Homo sapiens: one gene and its partner. The protein of the gene in region 1 interacts with the protein of each later gene in a pairwise test. Each region holds a gene or a part of one and is shown in the gene's direction. Other genes may lie near its edges.

Region 1 (5,500 bases):
GGGTAATTTTTGTATATTTTGTAGCGATGGAGTTTAGCCATGTTGCCCAGGCTGGTCTTTATAGTAAATCTTTTGTTTTTTTTTCAAGGCAGGATCTCACTCTGTTGCCCAGGTTGGAGTGCAGTGGAACAGTCACAACTCACTGCAGCCTCGAACTCCCGGGCTCAAGGGATCCTCCACCTCAGCCTCCTGAGTAGCTGGGATTACAGGCATATGCCACCACATCAGGCTAATTAAAAATTTTTTTTTTTTTTTGTACAGATAGGGTCTCACTGTGTTGCCCTGGCTGGCCTGCAACTCTTGGCCTCAAGCACTTCTTCCTCCTTGGCCTCCCAAAGCATTGGTGGGATAACAGGTGTGAGCCACCATGCCCAGCCTATAAGTCTTGAAGTCAGGTTCATTCTCCCAAATGTATTCTTCTGCTTCCGTATCCTGTTAGCTAATCTAAGTCTTTTGTCTGTCTGAACTTTATAATCAGTTTGTCAACATCTGCAAAATAACTTGCTGGGATTTTAACTGACAGTGCATTCAATCTGTAGATCAAGTTGGGAAGAGCTGAAGTCTTGAATATTGAGTCTTCCTATCCATGAACATGTTATATCTCTCTATCTAGTTCTTAGTTTTCATTCAGCAGTGTTTGGTAGTTTTTCTCATATAGATTTTATATAGTATCATTATATATTTTGTTAGACTTACACCTAAGTATTTAATTTTTGTGGGTGCTACTGTAAATGGTATTGTGTTTTTTATTTCAAATTCAGCTTACACCTGTGTACAGGAAAGGGGTTGACTTTTGTATATTAACTTTGTATCCTGCAACCTTGGTATAATCATGTAGTTCCAGGAGTCTTTCGGTGAATTTTTTTTTTTTTTTTTTTTTTTTTTTTGAGACAGAGTCTCGCTGTTGGCCAGGCTGGAGTGCAGTGGCACAATCTCGGCTCACTGCAACCTCCACCTCCTGGGTTCAAGCGATTCTCCTGCCTGAGCCTCCTGAGTAGCTGGTACTACAGGCATGTGCCACCACGCCCATCTAATTTTTTTGTATTTTTAGTAGAAATGGAGTTTCACTGTGTTAGCAGGATGGTCTCGATCTCCTGACCTCGTGATCAGCCCACCTCGGCCTCCTAAAGTGCTAGGATTACAGCCATGAGCCACCGTGCCGGGTCTGGTGAATTCTTTTGGACTTTGCACAATTATGCCATCTGTGAACAAAGTTTTATTCCTTCCTTCACAGTCATTATACATTTTACAGGTTAAGTATCTTTTATTCAAAATGCTTAAGACCAGAATTGTTTTGGATTTTGGATTTTTTCAGATCTTGGACTATTTACATATACATAAGATATCTTGGGGATGGGACCCAAGTCTAAACACAGAATTTGTTTATGTTTCATATATACTTTATACGTACAGCCTGAAGGTAATTTTATACAGTATTTTAAATAATTTTGTGTGTGAAACAAAGGTTGTATTAAGTTAATGTGTGGGATTTTCCACGTGTGAGGACTCAAAACGTTTTGAATTTTGGAGCATTTAGATTTCAGGTTTTTGGAACAGGGATTCTCATCCTGTATTTTCTGTTCTTGTTTTTTTGCCTCAGATAGGACTTCCAGTACAATGTTGAAAAAGAGTGGTGAGAGGGGATTAAAGATACATTTTGCCTTGTTGATCTTAGTGGGAAAGCTTCAAGTTTCTCACAGTTAAGTATGATGTTAGTTGTAGCATTTTTCTTGGTAGATATTCTCTATCAAGTTGAGAAAGACCCTTGTTCCTAGTTTAGTGAGGGTTTTTGTTGTTGTTAATTGTGAATGGGGTTGGATTTTGTCAGATTTTTTTTCTGGGCCAGATGTGGCTCACACCTGTAATCACTTTGGGAGGCTGAGGCAGGAGGATAGCTTTAGCCTAGGAATTCAGGACCAGCCTGGGCAACATAGTGAGACCCCATCTCTACAAAAAATTAAAAAACAAAATAGCTGGGCGTGGTGACACATGCCTGTAGTCTCAGCTACTGAGGAGGCTGAAGTGGAAGGATTGCTTGAGCCTGGGAGGTTGAGGCTGCTGTGAGCCATGTTTGCACCACTGCACTCCAGCCTGGGTGACAGAGCGAGACCCTGTCTCAAAAAAGAAAAAAAGTTTTTTCTGCATCTATCTATGCTTTTTCTTCTTTAGTCATTTGATACGATGGAACTGATTCAAGTATTGAACCAACCTTACATACCAGGAATAAATCCCACTTGGCTGTGGTGTACACTTGTTTTTATACATTGTTGTATTTTATTTTCTAGTATTTTGTTGAGGATTTTTGTATCTATATTTATGAGATAATTTTTCTGTAGTTTTCTAGGGTTTCTGTCTGGTTTTGGTATTAGAGCGATGCTGTCTTTATAGACTGAGTTAGGATTCCCTCTGCCTTTATCTTCTGAAAAATATTGTAGAGGGAAAAAAAGATTGGTGTGATTTTTTTCCTTAAATGTTTGGTAGACTTCACCAGTGAGTGAACCCATCTTGGCCTGGCACTTTCTGGTTTGGGTGATTCTTAATTTTTGATTCAATTTAGGCTTATTAGAGTGTCTGTTTCTTTTTGTTCAGTTTTGGCAGATTGTGTCTTTCAGGGATTTGGTCTGTTTCATCTAGGTCATGAAATGTGTGGACGTAGAATTGTACATAGTATGATGTTCCTTTATTGTCCTTTTTTCTTTTTATTTTTTTGATAGAGTCTCACTCTGTCACCCAGGCTGGAGTGCAGTGGCATGATCATGGCTCACTGCAACCTCTGCCTCCCAGGTTCAAGCGATTCTCCTGCCTCAGCCTCCCGAGTAGCTGGAAGTACAGGTGTGTGCCACCATGCCCGGCTAATTTTTGCGTTTTTAGTAGAGACAGGGTTTCACTATGTTGGCCAGGCTGGTCTCGAACTCCTGACCTCAAGTGATCCACCCACCTCAGCCTCCCAAAGTGCTGGGATTACAGGCATGAGCCACTGTGCCCAGCCTCCATTACTATTTTGAACAGACTAGGTCAACTAAGTATAAGAAAAATAGCTAGGCATGGCTGGGCGTGGTGGCTCAGGCCTGTAATCCCAGCACTTTGGGAGGCCGAGGCGGGTGAATCACGAGGTCAGATGTTCAAGACCAGCCTGATCAACATGGTGAAACCCTGTCACTACTAAAAATACAAAAGTTAGCGCCGGGCATGGTGGCACACACCTGTAATCCCAGCTGCTCAGGAGGCTGAGGCAGGAGAATCGCTTGAACTCAGGAAGCAGAGGTTGCAGTAAGCCAAGATCGTGCCACTGCACTCCAGCCCGGGCGACAGAGCGAGACTCAACAACAACAACAAAATAAAAATAGCTAGGCATGGTGGCTGATGCCTGTAATCCCAGCACTTTGGGAGACTGAAGCCAGGAGTTTGAGACCAGCCTGGGCAACGCAGAGACCTTGCCTATACAAAACAACAACAACAACAAAAAAAAAAAAAACCTAAAAAAAAAACCAGGTGTGCTAGTGTGCACCTGTAGCCCCAGCTACTTGGGAGGTGAGATGGTGAGGTGAGCCCAGGAGTTCGAGGCTGCTGTGCCACTGTACTCCAGCTTAGGCAACAGAGCGAGACCGTCTCAAAAAAATGATCAGAAAAAAAATTTTAATTTTACTTTCACTTATTCTTTCTTTGATGTTCTCACTTTTTAAAATATATATCTGTGGCCGGGCCTGGCGGCTCATCCCTGTAATCCCAGCACTCTGGGAGGCTGAGGCCGGCGGGTCATTTGAGGTCAGGAGTTCGAGACCAGCCTGGCCAACATGGTGAAACCCTGTCTCTACTACAAATACAAAAATTAGCTGGGCATGGTGGTGCGTGCCTGTAGGCCTGGCTACTTGGGAGGCTGAGGTATGAGAATCGCTTGAACCCAGGAGGCGGGGGTTGCAGTGAGCCAAGATCATGCCACTGCACTCCAGCCTGGGCAACAGGGTAAGACCCTATCTCAAAAAAAAAAAAGTGTATCTGTGTTTCTGACCTGTATTTTCCTTTTCTGCCTAGTTAAGGCAAGTTTACTTGAAATAGCAATAAATTATCTTAGTTTTTGTTTGAGAAAGACTTTTTTTTACTTTTGAAGGATAATTTTGCAGGGTACAGAATTCTGTTTTGATGATTTTTTTTTCTCTAAACACCTTAACTGTTTCACTCCATTTTCTTGCTTGTGTGGTTTCTGTAGGTAAGGTATTTTTTTTCATCTCTGGCTTATCTTTGATTTTTTGTGTTTTAAAAATGATATGCCTACGTGCAGGTTTTTTGGCATTTATCTTCTTGGTATTCTCGGATTTTCCTCCATCTGTGATTTGGTGTCTGACATTACTTCAGCGAAATTTTCAGTAATTATTGTTTCATATATAGATGCTCCTTGACTTGATGATGTGGTTACATCCTGATAAACTCATCATAAATTGAAAATCTCTTTGTCAGAAGTGCATTTTCGACTTACAATATGTTCAACTTATAATAGGTTTATCCAGATGGAGCCTCATCATAAGTTGGGGAACGTACTGAAGTGTATTGCTTCTGCGCCATTGTAAAATTGAAAAATACTAAGTCAAACCACTGTGCGTCAGGCACCGACTGTCTTTCTTCTGTTCTTTTCCTTTCCTTCGGGTATTTCCATTGTGCATATCTACACCTTTTGTGGCTGTCCATCTTGGATATTCTGTTCTTTTTTTTTTTCCCCAGTGTTCTCTTTGCTTGAAGGTTTCTGTTGATACATCCTTAAGTTCAAAGATTTTTTTCCTCAATCTCGTGCAGTCTACATAATACATAAGCCCATCAAAGGCATTCTTCACTTCTGTACAGTGTTTTTGATCACTAGTATTTCTTTTTTTTTTTTTTTGAGATGGAGTCTCACTTTCTTGCCCAGGCTGGAGTGCAGTGGTGCGATCTGGGCTCACTGCAGCCTCTACCTCTCAGGTTCAAGCCATTCTTGTGCCTCAGCCTCCTGAGTAGCTGGGACTACAGGTGCGCACCACCGTGCCTAGCTAATTTTTGTATTTTTAGTAGAGACAGAGTTTCAGTATGTTGGTTAGGCTGGTTTCGAACTTCTGACCTCAAGTGATCTACCCACCTCAGCCTCTCAAAGTGCTGGGATTACAGGTGTGAGCCACTACGCCTGGCCTGCCCATCTGTTCTTACATGCTGCCTACTTTATTCACTAGAGCCCATAACATATTATTCATGGTTGTTTTAAGTTTTGTCTGATACCTTCAACATCCCTATCATGTCTGGTTCTGATGCTTGCCCTGTCTGTGTTTTTGTTTTTGTTTTTATTTTTTTTTTTGAGATGGAGTCCAGGCTGGAGTGCAGTGGTGTGATCTTGGCTCACTACAACCTCCGCCTGTTGGGTTCAAGTGATTCTTCTGCCTCAGCCTCCCGAGTAGCTGGGACTACAGGTGCACTCCACCATGCCCGGCTGATTTTTGTATTTTTAGTAGAGACGGGGTTTCACCATACTGGCCAGGCT
Region 2 (4,404 bases), on another chromosome or scaffold:
GGCTCACTGCAAGCTCTGCCTCCCGGGTTCATGCCATTCTCCTGCCTCAGCCTCCCAAGTACCTGGGACTACAGGCGCCCACCACCACACCCAGCTGATTTTTTTTTTCTATTTTTAGTAGAGACAGGGTTTCACCGTGTTATCCAGGATGGTCTCGATCTCCTGACCTTGTGATCTGCCCACCTCGGCCTCCCAAAGTGCTGGGATTACAGGCGTGAGCCACCGTGCCTGGCCGCCCAGGCCTGTGTTTTTGAATATCCAGCAGAACATTAGAAAATGTTGCAGGTCAGTTCACTATGCCGGATTGTCTCACACATTGGAGGAGTGCTTGCGTCATTGTCAGGAACTTCCCCAACCATGGAAAACAAGAAGATGTGCCTATTTCCAAAATATCCTCAGAGTGTGTTAACAGCTTCATCAAGAACCACTGCCCTAAAATATAGAGTGAAAAAAAGAGAAAAGATTACCGGTTTATAAGAGGAAGGGCCTTTTTGCTTCCTATTTATCACAGTCATGAATGTTAAACTTACACCCATACCTAAACAAACACACATGCATGCACACACATGTGCAAACACACACACACAAAGGCTGTGTTTTATTGAGGGCAAATGTGAGAATATATTTTGTTCAGATGTACACTGAGAAGGCAGTGGTGGAAAGTGAAGCAGCAAGTGGCCCTAAACTAGAAGAGCTAGTCAGCCTCTGCCAGGAACTAGCTTGAATCCACAAATGCCACGCTTGTCAGGCCCATCCTGGCTTTGCATCCCCACTCTCTCTCCACCCTCAAGCCTGCCTTTCATTCCCTATCCACTTCCTTCTAGAGTCCCAGTCTCTGCTTCTCACTTTGCTTCATCATCAGTCACATGATGCTTGGGGAATTCTTTAGGGAGATCACTATTTGTTGTAGTGGAGATGCAGAAGAGAGGATGTGCTGATAATTCTCAGAAAGTGTTATGGCTGGTGTTTGAGTCCTATATTATCAAATTTCAGGAATGTTAGAGGCTTAAGTCTGTGTGCTGGCTTAAAGAAAGCATGTTTCAAATTTCAAGAAACTAAATTACTAACAAACTTCTGTAACCTGTTCCTGGGGTAGGAATTGCCAGTTCTCTGAAGTGACTTGAAACAATTTAACAAGTTCAGCCCTGAAATCTACATATGTATATTTTATAATAACCCATATAACTCTTACTGATTCTTACACTTTCCCAGTTCTCTGGTTTTTATCTGGTGCATGTGTTGCAATATGCAAAGGATGACAATCTTATTTTTAACTTTTTATTATTTGTACTTTCCTTTTTGTTTCGTTGTTTTTTGTTTGCTTGTTTTGAGACAGAATCTCACTCACCCAGGCTGGAGGGCAGTAGTGATCACAGCACACTAACTCAAACTCCAGTGTTCAGGCCATCCATCCTCTTGATTCTTTTTGAGTAGCTAGGACTGCAGATGTGCATTGCCATGCCCGACTAATTTTTTTTTCTTTTTAGTTGAAACAAGGTCTCACTATGTTTCCTAGGTTGGTCTTGGCCTCAAGTGATCCTCTCACCTGGGCCTCCTAAGCACTAAGTTTACAGGCATGAGCCACCATGCTGAGCCTATACTTTCCTTTTCTCGACAGATTGAATTAACTAGAACTTTACAGTTGATAATAACACAGATATCTCTGATATCTGTAATAGTTAATGTCATCATATTATTGAGTTCTTTATCTTAAATTAAAACAAATATATATATCCGCAGTGGTCTTCACTACCAAGTCATCAGTAGGGGGGTGATAGTGATGGAGCCATTCTTTACAGAAGGAAATTCCAATGGAATAAAAAATGAGTGTTCTGTTAAACCATTTTCTCTCATTTTCTTTCTTTCTTTTCTTTCTGTCTTTGTCTTTCTGTCTTTCTTTCCTGTCTGTCTGTCTTTCATCTCGATCTGTTGCCCAAGCTGGAGTGCAATGGTGCAACAATTTCAGCTTACTCCAACCTCTGCCTTCTTTGCTCAAGCCATCATCCCACCTCAGCCTCTCCAGTAGCTGGGACTACAGGCATGCACCACCAGACTCAGCTAATTTTTTGTATTTTTTGTAGAGTTGGGGTTTCACCATGTTACCTAGGCTGGTCTCAAACTTCTCATCCCAAGCAATCCACCTCCCTCGGCCTCCCAAAGTCCTGGGATTACAGTCATGTGTCACCACACCCAGCCTTTGTTAAACCATTTTCAATGAAACTGGAAGTCTGTGTTAATTCATACATATGGTGGGTGAGAGAAAGGCTTCCTTATACCACACTGACCCTGCTGATACAACATCTTCCCTCTCTTCTCAGAGACTAGTGGAAAGTCGCCGACAGCAGATCTTGAGGGAGTTTGAAGAGCTTCATAGGCGGCTGGATGAAGAGCAGCAGGTGTTGCTTTCACGACTGGAAGAAGAGGAACAGGACATTCTGCAGCGACTCCGAGAAAATGCTGCTCACCTTGGGGACAAGCGCCGGGACCTGGCCCACTTGGCTGCCGAGGTGGAGGGCAAGTGCTTACAGTCAGGCTTCGAGATGCTTAAGGTTCGACCTTTGCCCCTGCATAGCCCCTCAGGCTGAGTGCAGCGTAGCTTTGCGTAGCCTGGGATTTGTCAGCCTGGGATACTCATTCTTCTGCTCTCCTTCTCTAAATCCAGTTCTTTCTGCCAGGTGTACTCAAAGGGTCTTTGCTACGGAAAAGTGATTTCTCCCATCCCCTTCTAACCATTTTTGTGTTCTTATCTCTGGTCAGCAATTATGTGCTTAATCTGTTCCAAAGAAAAGATTCATTCTTTTGAAAGGAGGGAAGTCTAGCCTGAGTTAGTGAAAAACTATGCATTAAAAATTTTGTAAATGCAGTTACCATTACTTTTAAGTCCTGAAATTTGATTTATGTACTGCTGAAAAAGGACAGAAACATAGTTTAAAGGATACAGGCATACCTCAGAGATATTGTGGGTTCAGTTCCATACCACTTCAATAAAGCGAGTATCTTGATAAAGCAAGTCACATTAATTGTTGGGTTTCCTAGTGGAATCATATTTTTGCTGGTGGAGGGTCTTGTGTTAGTATTGACTGATCGAGGTGGTGGTTGCTGAAGATTGGGGTGACTGTGGTAATTTCTTAAAATAAGACAACGACGAAGTTTACTTTCAACTCTTCCTTTTATGAAAGATATCTCTGAGCATGTGATGCTGTTTAATAGCATTTTACTCACCAGTAGAACTTCTTTGAAAATCTTTGAAAACCCACATTTGCAGTTACTTACAACATGGGAGTCTTGAACCCCTAAAAGTCATCCATAAGGGTTGGAATAGACTTCTTCTAAATGCCTGTTAATATTGATATTTTGGCTTCCTTTCACAAATCACAAATGTTCTTAATGGCATCTAGAATGGTGAATCCTTACCAGAAAGCCTTCAATTTACTTTGCCTAGATCTATCAGAAAAATCACTATTTATAGCAGCTTTATGAAATACATTTATTAAGACTTGAAAGTCCAAATTACTTCTTGATCCATGGGCTGCCGATTGGATGTTGTGTTAGCGGACGTGAAAACAACATGAATCTCATTTTACATCTCTATCAGAACTTTTGGGTGATCAAGTGCATTGTCAGTGAGCAGTAATATTTTGAAAGGAATCTTTTTTTCTGAGCAGTAGGTCTCAACTTAAAATTTTCAGTAAAGGGTTGGGCACGGTGGCTTACACCTGTAATCCTATCACTTTGGGAGGCCAAGGCAGGTGGATCACCTGAGGTCAGGAGTTTGAGACCAGCCTGGCCAACATGGTGAAGCCCAATCTCTACTAAAAATACAAAAAAATTAGCTGGGCATGGTGGTGGGCGCCTGTAATCCCAGCTACTCGGGAGGCTGAGGGAGGAGAATCGCTTGAACCCGAGAGGCAGAGGTTGCAGTGAGCCAAGATCATGCAGTTGCACTCCTGCCTGGGTGACAAGAGTGAAACTCCATCCCCCCAAAAAAAACTTCAGTAAAGGCTAGGCACGTTGGCTCACATCTGTAATCCCAGCACTCTGAGAGATCAAGCCAGGAGGACTGCTTAAGGCCAGGAATTCAAGACCAGTCTGGGCAATATAGCAGGACCCCATCTCTACAAAAGGTAATTTTTTTTAATTAAAAACATTCAGTATACCATGCTGTATACAGGTGTACTGTCATGTAGGCTTTGTTATTCCATTTCTAGAGCACAAGGAAAGTAGATTTAGCATAATTCTTAAGAGCCCTAGGATTTTTGAAATGGTAAGTGAGCACTGGTTTCAACTTAAAGTCACCAGCTGCCCTTGCTTCTAATAAGAAAGTCATCCTGTCCTTTGAAGCTTTAAAGCCAGGCATTGACTTCTCTCGAACTGTGAAAGCCCTGGATAGCACCTTCTTCAATA

The links.
Region 2: the proteins of ZNF26 (region 1) and TRIM39 interact in binary tests that used the Homo sapiens proteins (3 or more experiments, as listed by UniProt).

Annotation. Positions count from the first base shown.
Region 1 is NC_000012.12:132,988,170-132,993,669, forward strand, and holds part of ZNF26 (zinc finger protein 26), read left to right. Parts: intron 1-5,500. UniProt on the Homo sapiens protein: May be involved in transcriptional regulation.
Region 2 is NC_000006.12:30,333,427-30,337,830, forward strand, and holds part of TRIM39 (E3 ubiquitin-protein ligase TRIM39), read left to right. Parts: intron 1-2,318; coding exon 2,319-2,549; intron 2,550-4,404. Other genes in the region: TRIM39-RPP21 protein, read left to right, coding at 2,319-2,549.